Homo sapiens: one gene and its partner. The protein of the gene in region 1 purifies or fractionates together with the protein of each later gene. This does not show direct contact. Each region holds a gene or a part of one and is shown in the gene's direction. Other genes may lie near its edges.

Region 1 (3,817 bases):
GCGATCCTCCTGCCTTGGCCTTTCAAAGTGTTGGGATTATAGGCATGAACCACCATAACCAGCTGCTACACTAAATTTATAAAAATATTTTTTTCTTTCTTTTTTTTTTTTAGAGGCAAGGTCTCACTATGTTTCCCAGGCTGGACTTGAACTTTTGGGCTCAAGCAATCTGCCTGCCTTGACCTCCCAAAGTACTGGGATTATAGGAATGAGCCACTGTGCCCAGCCTATAACATTTTTTTTCTTTCTTCAGTAATAAGCTAACTTCAGATTACTGTAACTTTTTTACATTATAAACTTAAAATGTTTTTTAAAAAATAGAGATGGGGTCTGCCATGTTGCCCAGGCTGGTCTCGAACTCCTGAACTTAAGCAATCCTCCCACCTCAGCCTCCCAAAGTGCTGGGATTACAGGCATAAGCCACTGCACCTGACCAAGACTGATACTTTTTTAAAGGCAAAGTTCTAATCATTAGAGTGTGTTTTGTTTGTTTGTTTGTTTTTGAGACACAGTCTCACTTTATCGCCCACGCTGGAGTACAGTGGTACGATCTCGCCTCACCGCAGCCTCCGCCTCCCAGGTTTGACTGATTCTCCTGCCTCAGCCTCCCCAGTAGCTGGGGTTACAGGCATGCACCACCACACCCGGCTAATTTTTGTATTTTTAGTAGAGATGGGGTTTCGCCATGGTGGCCAGTCTGGTCTCAAACCCCTGACCTCAGGTGATCCGCCTGCCTCAGCCTCCCAGAGTGCTGGGATTACAGGCATGAGCCACCACGCCTGGCCTAGAGTTTATCTTTATTATAATGCCCACTCACACCCTCTGAGATTCCAGTTACAGATGTTAGACCACTTGATATCCATAGGTCATCGAAGTTCTTTTCTATTCTGTCCTCCCCCACTACCCTGCCCACCCAGGTTTTTTTTTAATCTGTGCTTCATTTTGGCTCATTTCATTTGCTATATCTTCAACTGACCTTTTTTTTTTCCCCACAGTGTTAAACATGCTGTTAATTCTATCTAGTAAGGTTTACATTTAAAATATGCAATTTTTCTTCTCTAGGTGCTCCATTTGGTTTTGTTTGTTTGTTTGTTTTGAGACAGACTCTCACTCTGTCACCCAGGCAGGAGTGCAAATGGTATGATCTCAGCTCACTGCAACCTCTGCCTCCTTGGTTCAAGCAATTCTCCTGCCTTAGCCTCCTGAGTAGCTGGGATTACAGGCATGCGCACCATGTCTGGCTAATTTTTGTATTTTTAGTAGAGATGGGGTTTCACCATGTTAGCCAGGCTGATCTCGAACCCCTGACCTGAGGTGATCCCCACCTCGGCCTCCGAAGTGCTAGGATTACAGGCGTGAGCCACGGCACCCGGCCTGGTTCTTTTTTTTTCTTCTTATTTTTTTTTTAATGGAGAAGAGTTCTTGCTATGTTGCTCAGGCTGGTCTCAAACTCCTGGCCTCAAGCACTCTCCTGTCTTAACCCCCACCAAAGTGCCGAGATTAAGGCATGAGCCACTGTGCCTGGCTGGTTCTTTTATTTCTTTCTTTATTTATATTTTTATTTTATTTTGAGACAGAGTCTTGCTCTGTCACCCTGGCTGGAGGGCAGTGGCATGATCTTGGCTCACTGCAACCTCCACCTCCCGGGTTCAAGCCATTCTGCTGCCTCAGCCTCCCGAGTAACTGGGATTACAGGTGTACGTCAGAACACCTCGCTAAATTTTTGTATTTTTAGTAGAGACGGGGTTCACCATTTTGGCCAGGCTGGTCTCAAACTCTCAAACTCCTGACCTCAAGTGAGCCGCCCATCTCAGCCTCCCAAAGTGCTGGGATTATAGGCGTGAGCCACTGTACCTGGCCTGATTCTTTCTTTTATCTTCTGTATCTCTCATTACTGTGTTTATGTTTTCCTTGTCTGCTAATTCTATCATTTATGTCTTTTCTGGCTCTGCTTTTTAAGTTTTTTAATCTAGGCCAGGCTCGGTGGCTCACGCCTGTAATCCCAACACTTTGGGAGGCTGAGGTGGGTGGATCACCTGAGGTCAGGAGGTAGAGACCAGCCTGGTCAACATGGTAAAACCCCATCTCTACTAAAAATACAAAAACTAGCCAGGCATGGTGGCAAGCACCTATAATCTCAGCTACTTGGGAGGCTGAGGCAGGAGAATTGCTTCACCCTGGGAGGCAGAGGTTGCAGTAAGCCGAGATCGCACCACTGCACTCCAGCCTGGGTGACAGAGCGAGACCCTGTCAGCAAAAAAAAAGGGCTGGGCACAGTGGCTCATGCCTGTAATCCCAGCACTTTGGGAGGCCGAGGCGGGCAGATCACCTGAGGTCAGGAGTTCGAGACCAGCCTGACCAACATGGAGAAACCCCATCTCTACTAAAAATACAAAATTAGCCAGGCGTGGTGGCGCATGCCTATAATCCCAGCTACTCGGGAGGCTGAGGCAGGAGAATCGCTTGAACCCGGGAGGCAGAGGTTGCGGTGAGCCGAGATCATGCCATTGCACTCCAGCCTGGGCAACAAGAGCAAACCTCCATCTCAAAAAAAAAAAAAAAATAGCAATATACACTGGAAAATACCATTAGACTCAACTATATAAACACATACATGTATTTCCCCAACAGCACCCCTCCAGCACAATAGCTATTTCCATCATATGTGGAATCTAGGGTTAATCTGAATTCAATAAGTTAAAAAGAAAGAGTTCTTAAATCAGTAAGAAAAAAACTGAAAATCTCAACAGAAAAATGGATAACATATCAGTTCTTGAAGTGTGGTCTAGTGACCCATGGAGGTTCCTAAGAACTCTTTCGGAGATTCCCAAGAACTCTTTCGGAGGTTCTGTGATTATTTTCATAATAACGGTAATTTTTTTTTTTTTTTTTGAGAAAGAGAGTCTTGCTTTGTCGCCCAGGCTGGAGTGCAGTGGCGTGATATTGGCTCACTTCCCGAGTTCAAGCCATTCTCCTGCCTCAGCCTCCCAAATAGCTGGGATTACAGGCACACGGCACCATACCTGGCTAATTTTTGTATTTTTAGTAGAGATGGAGGTTTCACCAAGTTGGCCAGGCTGGTCTCGAACTCCTGACCTCAAGTGATCCATCTGCCTCAGCCTCGCGCCTGGCCAATGCTAAGATTTTGTTTGCCTTTTTCAGTACGTTGACATTTGTGCTGATAATGCAAAAGCAACAGTGGCCCTTCACATGAATCAAGAAAGTGGCACTAAACTGTACTAGTAGTCGTGTTCTTCACTACTACATCGTTTTCACTTAAGAAAGTCCTCTTCATCTGTAAAATGGGTAAATGAAAAGATAACAGAAAGAATGTCCTTGTTGAAGCAGTAAAATATTAATTTTATTAATTATATTTGAGCTCACGTCCTTTTTTAATAGACCTATTTTTTAGAGCAGTTTTAGGTTCACAGACAAATTGAGCATAAGGTAAAAGATATTTCCCATATCTCCCTGCCGCCACATATGTATAGCTTCCCCCACTATCCCCCACCCAGCAGCAAGGTTATATATTATTTGTTACAATCAATGAATTTACACTGACAACATTATCAACCAAAGTCCATGGTTTAAATTGGGCTTCACTGTTGGTGTTGTACATTCTATGGTTTTGGACAAATGTGCATGACATGTATCCACCGTTATAGTGTCATACAGAAGAGTTTCACTGTCCTGAGAATCCCCTGTGGTCTACTTGTCCCTCCTCCCTCTTACCCCTGTGGCAATCACTGATCTTTTTACTATCGCCATACTTTTTCCAGCAGGTCTTACTGTTGGGATCATAGAGTATTTAAGTTGG
Region 2 (3,817 bases), on another chromosome or scaffold:
GGGAGTATTTTTAAAAATAATTGTTTTAAATGTAAAATAAATAATAGGTAATTCCTAAAGCAACAGGGTTAGTGTTTCAGGAAGAAGTACTTTAGACTTCCACTGGGAAAAAATTAATTTTTCTTATTGGTTAGACTTTTGCAGCTCCAGAGATCGGTTGTCTGCCAAGAATCAGACCTTCCTGATGAGCTGCTTTATGGACGGGCAGGTTATCTGTATGCCTTACTGTACCTGAACACAGAGATAGGTCCAGGCACCGTGTGTGAGTCAGCTATTAAAGAGGTACTATGGGGTATGGGTAACTATGGGCGTCTCTACCATTCAAACCTATTTGCTAGCATTGAGTTGTATTAACAGCTGGACTTTACTTCTAGGTAGCATTACTTTTTTAAAGCAACTCATCAAAAGTAAGAAATAGTCCCTGCTTTTTTCTAGGAACATTAACAAAAAAAATCTGTACTCTCTTTCATCTTGTATTAATTTATCAGTTTTTACTGGAGCTAAACAGCAGCAGCTTCAGAAAGTTAGAATGTTTATTTATCTTTCGTGAGATGTCTCAGCTGGTAAGCATTTCAGGCTGGTATGAGTGGGGACCAGCTTCTTCTGTCTCATTCTGCCTTATCCTAGGGGCATACCCTTATTTGCAGGACCAAGGCTAGTTTAGCCCCTCAGCCTATGAAGGGAAAAGAGGAGGTGGAGGCAACGCAGCTTCCTTGTTAGGGACTCAGTCTCCAAGTTGCCCTCTTTACTTCTGCTCCCATCCCAGTGCCAGAACTTCATCAAGTGTCTGTGTTCAGCTGTCTCTAACTAGGGAGCCAGATGCCCAGCTAAAACTTGGAATACTTTCCCAAAAAGGATGAGAGGAGATAGACGTGAGGAAACAGTCATCCCAGACATGATATTCTGTTGATCTAACTGAAATCCTTCATGCCACAGCAGACCTCATATCATTAGCCTTTTATAAATAAAGCCAGTTCCTCCAGCCTTTCCTGATAGGTGTATGTGCTGCTCTTTTGGGAAAAATACTGCAGCTACGAAGCAACTAAGAAATCCAAAACAGTTTTATAAGAAGTTTTTCTAGATTTTTCGTTGACTTTTTATGCAAAGAATTTTTTATTTCTTAGACAGTATCTTTTCCTACTCTGACATTGGCTCCTGATTTCTTTTTGCCTGCATTTATTAATTTATAAAATAAATATAACTATATTAGCTGCTAACTGCTTAAAGACTTTTAGATTAAGGCTTCTGCCTCTCTCTCTATATATGTCATATATATATGACATACTGTTAATTAGACTACAACAGGGTACATATACAGTTTTAGATTTATGCTGTCTTGTTATCTCTGTAGGTAGTCAATGCTATTATTGAATCGGGTAAGACTTTGTCAAGGGAAGAAAGAAAAACGGAGCGCTGCCCGCTGTTGTACCAGTGGCACCGGAAGCAGTACGTTGGAGCAGCCCATGGCATGGCTGGAATTTACTATATGTTAATGCAGGTAGGTAAGAATACTCTTACACACTACAGTATATTTGATCAAACATGAAATGGGAAATGAATCCTGCATATAAACAAAGCAGTCTGGATTGAAATACCCTACTTTGAATCGCTGATGCGTAACTCTGCCACATAAACCACAGGCAGTGGATTTCTAAGAGTCCAGTGAGTTCCTGAGTACATTTGGTATGGAGTCTTTTTTTTTTTTTTTTTTTTTTTTTTCCAATTTTCTTTTTTTTTTTTTTTTGATCATTCTTGGGTGTTTCTCGCAGAGGGGGATTTGGCAGGGTCACAGGACAGTAGTGGAGGGAAGGTCAGCAGATAAGTGAACAAAGGTCTCTGGTTTTCCTAGGCAGAGGACCCTGCGGCCCTCTGCAGTGTTTGTGTCCCTGGGTACTTGAGATTAGGGAGTGGTGATGACTCTTAACGAGCATGCTGCCTTCAAGCATCTTGTTTAACAAAGCACATCTTGCACCACCCTTAATCCATTTAACCCTGAGTGGACACAGCACATGTTTCAGAGAGCACAGGGTTGGGGGTAAGGTCACAGATCAACAGGATCCCAAGGCAGAAGAATTTTTCTTAGTACAGAACAAAATGAAAAGTCTCCCATGTCTACCTCTTTCTACACAGACATGGCAACCATCCGATTTCTCAATCTTTTCCCCACCTTTCCCCCCTTTCTATTCCACAAAACCGCCATTGTCATCATGGCCCGTTCTCAATGAGCTGTTGAGTACACCTCCCAGACGGGGTGGTGGCCGGGCAGAGGGGCTCCTCACTTCCCAGTAGGGGCGGCCGGGCAGAGGCGCCCCTCACCTCCCGGACGGGGCGGCTGGCCGGGCAGAGGGGCTCCTCACTTCCCAGTAGGGGCGGCCAGGCAGAGGCGCCCCTCACCTCCCGGACGGGGCGGCTGGCCGGGCGGGGGGCTGACCCCCCCGCCTCCCTCCCGGACGGGGCGGCTGGCCGGGCGGGGGGCTGACCTCCCCGCCTCCCTCCCCGGACGGGGCGGCTGGCCGGGCAGAGGGGCTCCTTACTTCCCAGTAGGGGCGGCCAGGCAGAGGCGCCCCTCACCTCCCGGACGGGGCGGCTGGCCGGGCGGGGGGCTGACCCCACCACCTCCCTCCCGGACGGGGCGGCTGGCCGGGCAGAGGGGCTCCTCTCCTCCCAGTAGGGGCGGCCGGGCAGAGGCGCCCCCCACCTCCCGGATGGGGCGGCTTGCCGGGCGGGGGGCTGACCCCCCCACATCCTTCCCGGACGGGGCGGCTGGCCAGGCGGGGGATGACCCCCCCACCTCCCTCCCGGATGGGGCGGCTGGCTGGGCGGGGGGCTAACCCCCCCACCTCCCTTCCGGACGGGGCGGCTGGCCGGGCGGGGGGCTGACCCCCACCTCCCTCCCAGACGGGGTGGCTGCCGGGCGGAGACGCTCCTCACTTCTCAGACGGGGCGGTTGCCGGGCGGAGGGTCTCCTCACTTCTCAGACGGGGCGGCCGGGCAGAGACGCTCCTCACATCCCAGACGGGGCGGCAGGGCAGAGGCGCTCCCCACATCTCAGACGATGGGCGGCCTGGCAGAGACGCTCCTCACTTCCTAGATGGGATGGCGGCTGGGCAGAGATGCTCCTCACTTTCCAGACTGGGCAGCCAGGCAGAGAGGCTCCTCACATCCCAGACGATGGGCGGCCAGGCAGAGACGCTCCTCACTTCCCAGACGGGGTGGCGGCCGGGCAGAGGCTGCAATCTCGGCACTTTGGGGGGCCAAGGCAGGCAGCTGGGAGGTGGAGGTTGTAGCGAGCCGAGATCACGCCACTGCACTCCAGCCTGGGCACCATTGAACACTGAGTGAGTGAACGCGACTCCGTCTGCCATCCCGGCACCTCGGGAGGCCGAGGCTGGCGGATCACTCGCGGTTAGGAGCTGGAGACCAGCCTGGCCAACACAGCGAAACCCCGTCTCCACCAAAAAAATACGAAAACCAGTCAGGCATGGCGGCGCGCGCCTGCAATCGCAGGCACTCGGCAGGCTGAGGCAGGAGAATCAGGCAGGGAGGTTGCAGTGAGCCGAGATGGCAGCAGTACAGTCCAGCTTTGGCTCGGCATCAGGGGGAGACCGTGGAAAGAGAGGGAGAGGGAGAGGGAGAGGAGGGAGAGGGAGAGGAGGAGCCTTTCCAATTTTCTTTCGGTATGGAGTCTTAAAGCAGATTAGTTATCTGTTCCCCACACTTTTCTGGGTTTTTTTTGTTTGTTTGTTGTTTTTTTTTTTTTTTTTTTTGAGACAGAGTCTCACTCTGTCGCCCAGGCTGGAGTGCAGTGGTGTGATCT

Evidence for each region.
Region 2: the proteins of PPP1R14D (region 1) and LANCL2 purify together in Homo sapiens (affinity purification with mass spectrometry; one large-scale study listed by BioGRID and IntAct). This does not show direct contact.

Annotation. Positions count from the first base shown.
Region 1 is NC_000015.10:40,818,614-40,822,430, reverse strand, and holds part of PPP1R14D (protein phosphatase 1 regulatory subunit 14D), read left to right. Parts: intron 1-3,817. UniProt on the Homo sapiens protein: Inhibitor of PPP1CA. Has inhibitory activity only when phosphorylated, creating a molecular switch for regulating the phosphorylation status of PPP1CA substrates and smooth muscle contraction.
Region 2 is NC_000007.14:55,399,823-55,403,639, forward strand, and holds part of LANCL2 (lanC-like protein 2), read left to right. Parts: intron 1-134; coding exon 135-282; intron 283-1,351; coding exon 1,352-1,498; intron 1,499-3,817. UniProt on the Homo sapiens protein: Necessary for abscisic acid (ABA) binding on the cell membrane and activation of the ABA signaling pathway in granulocytes.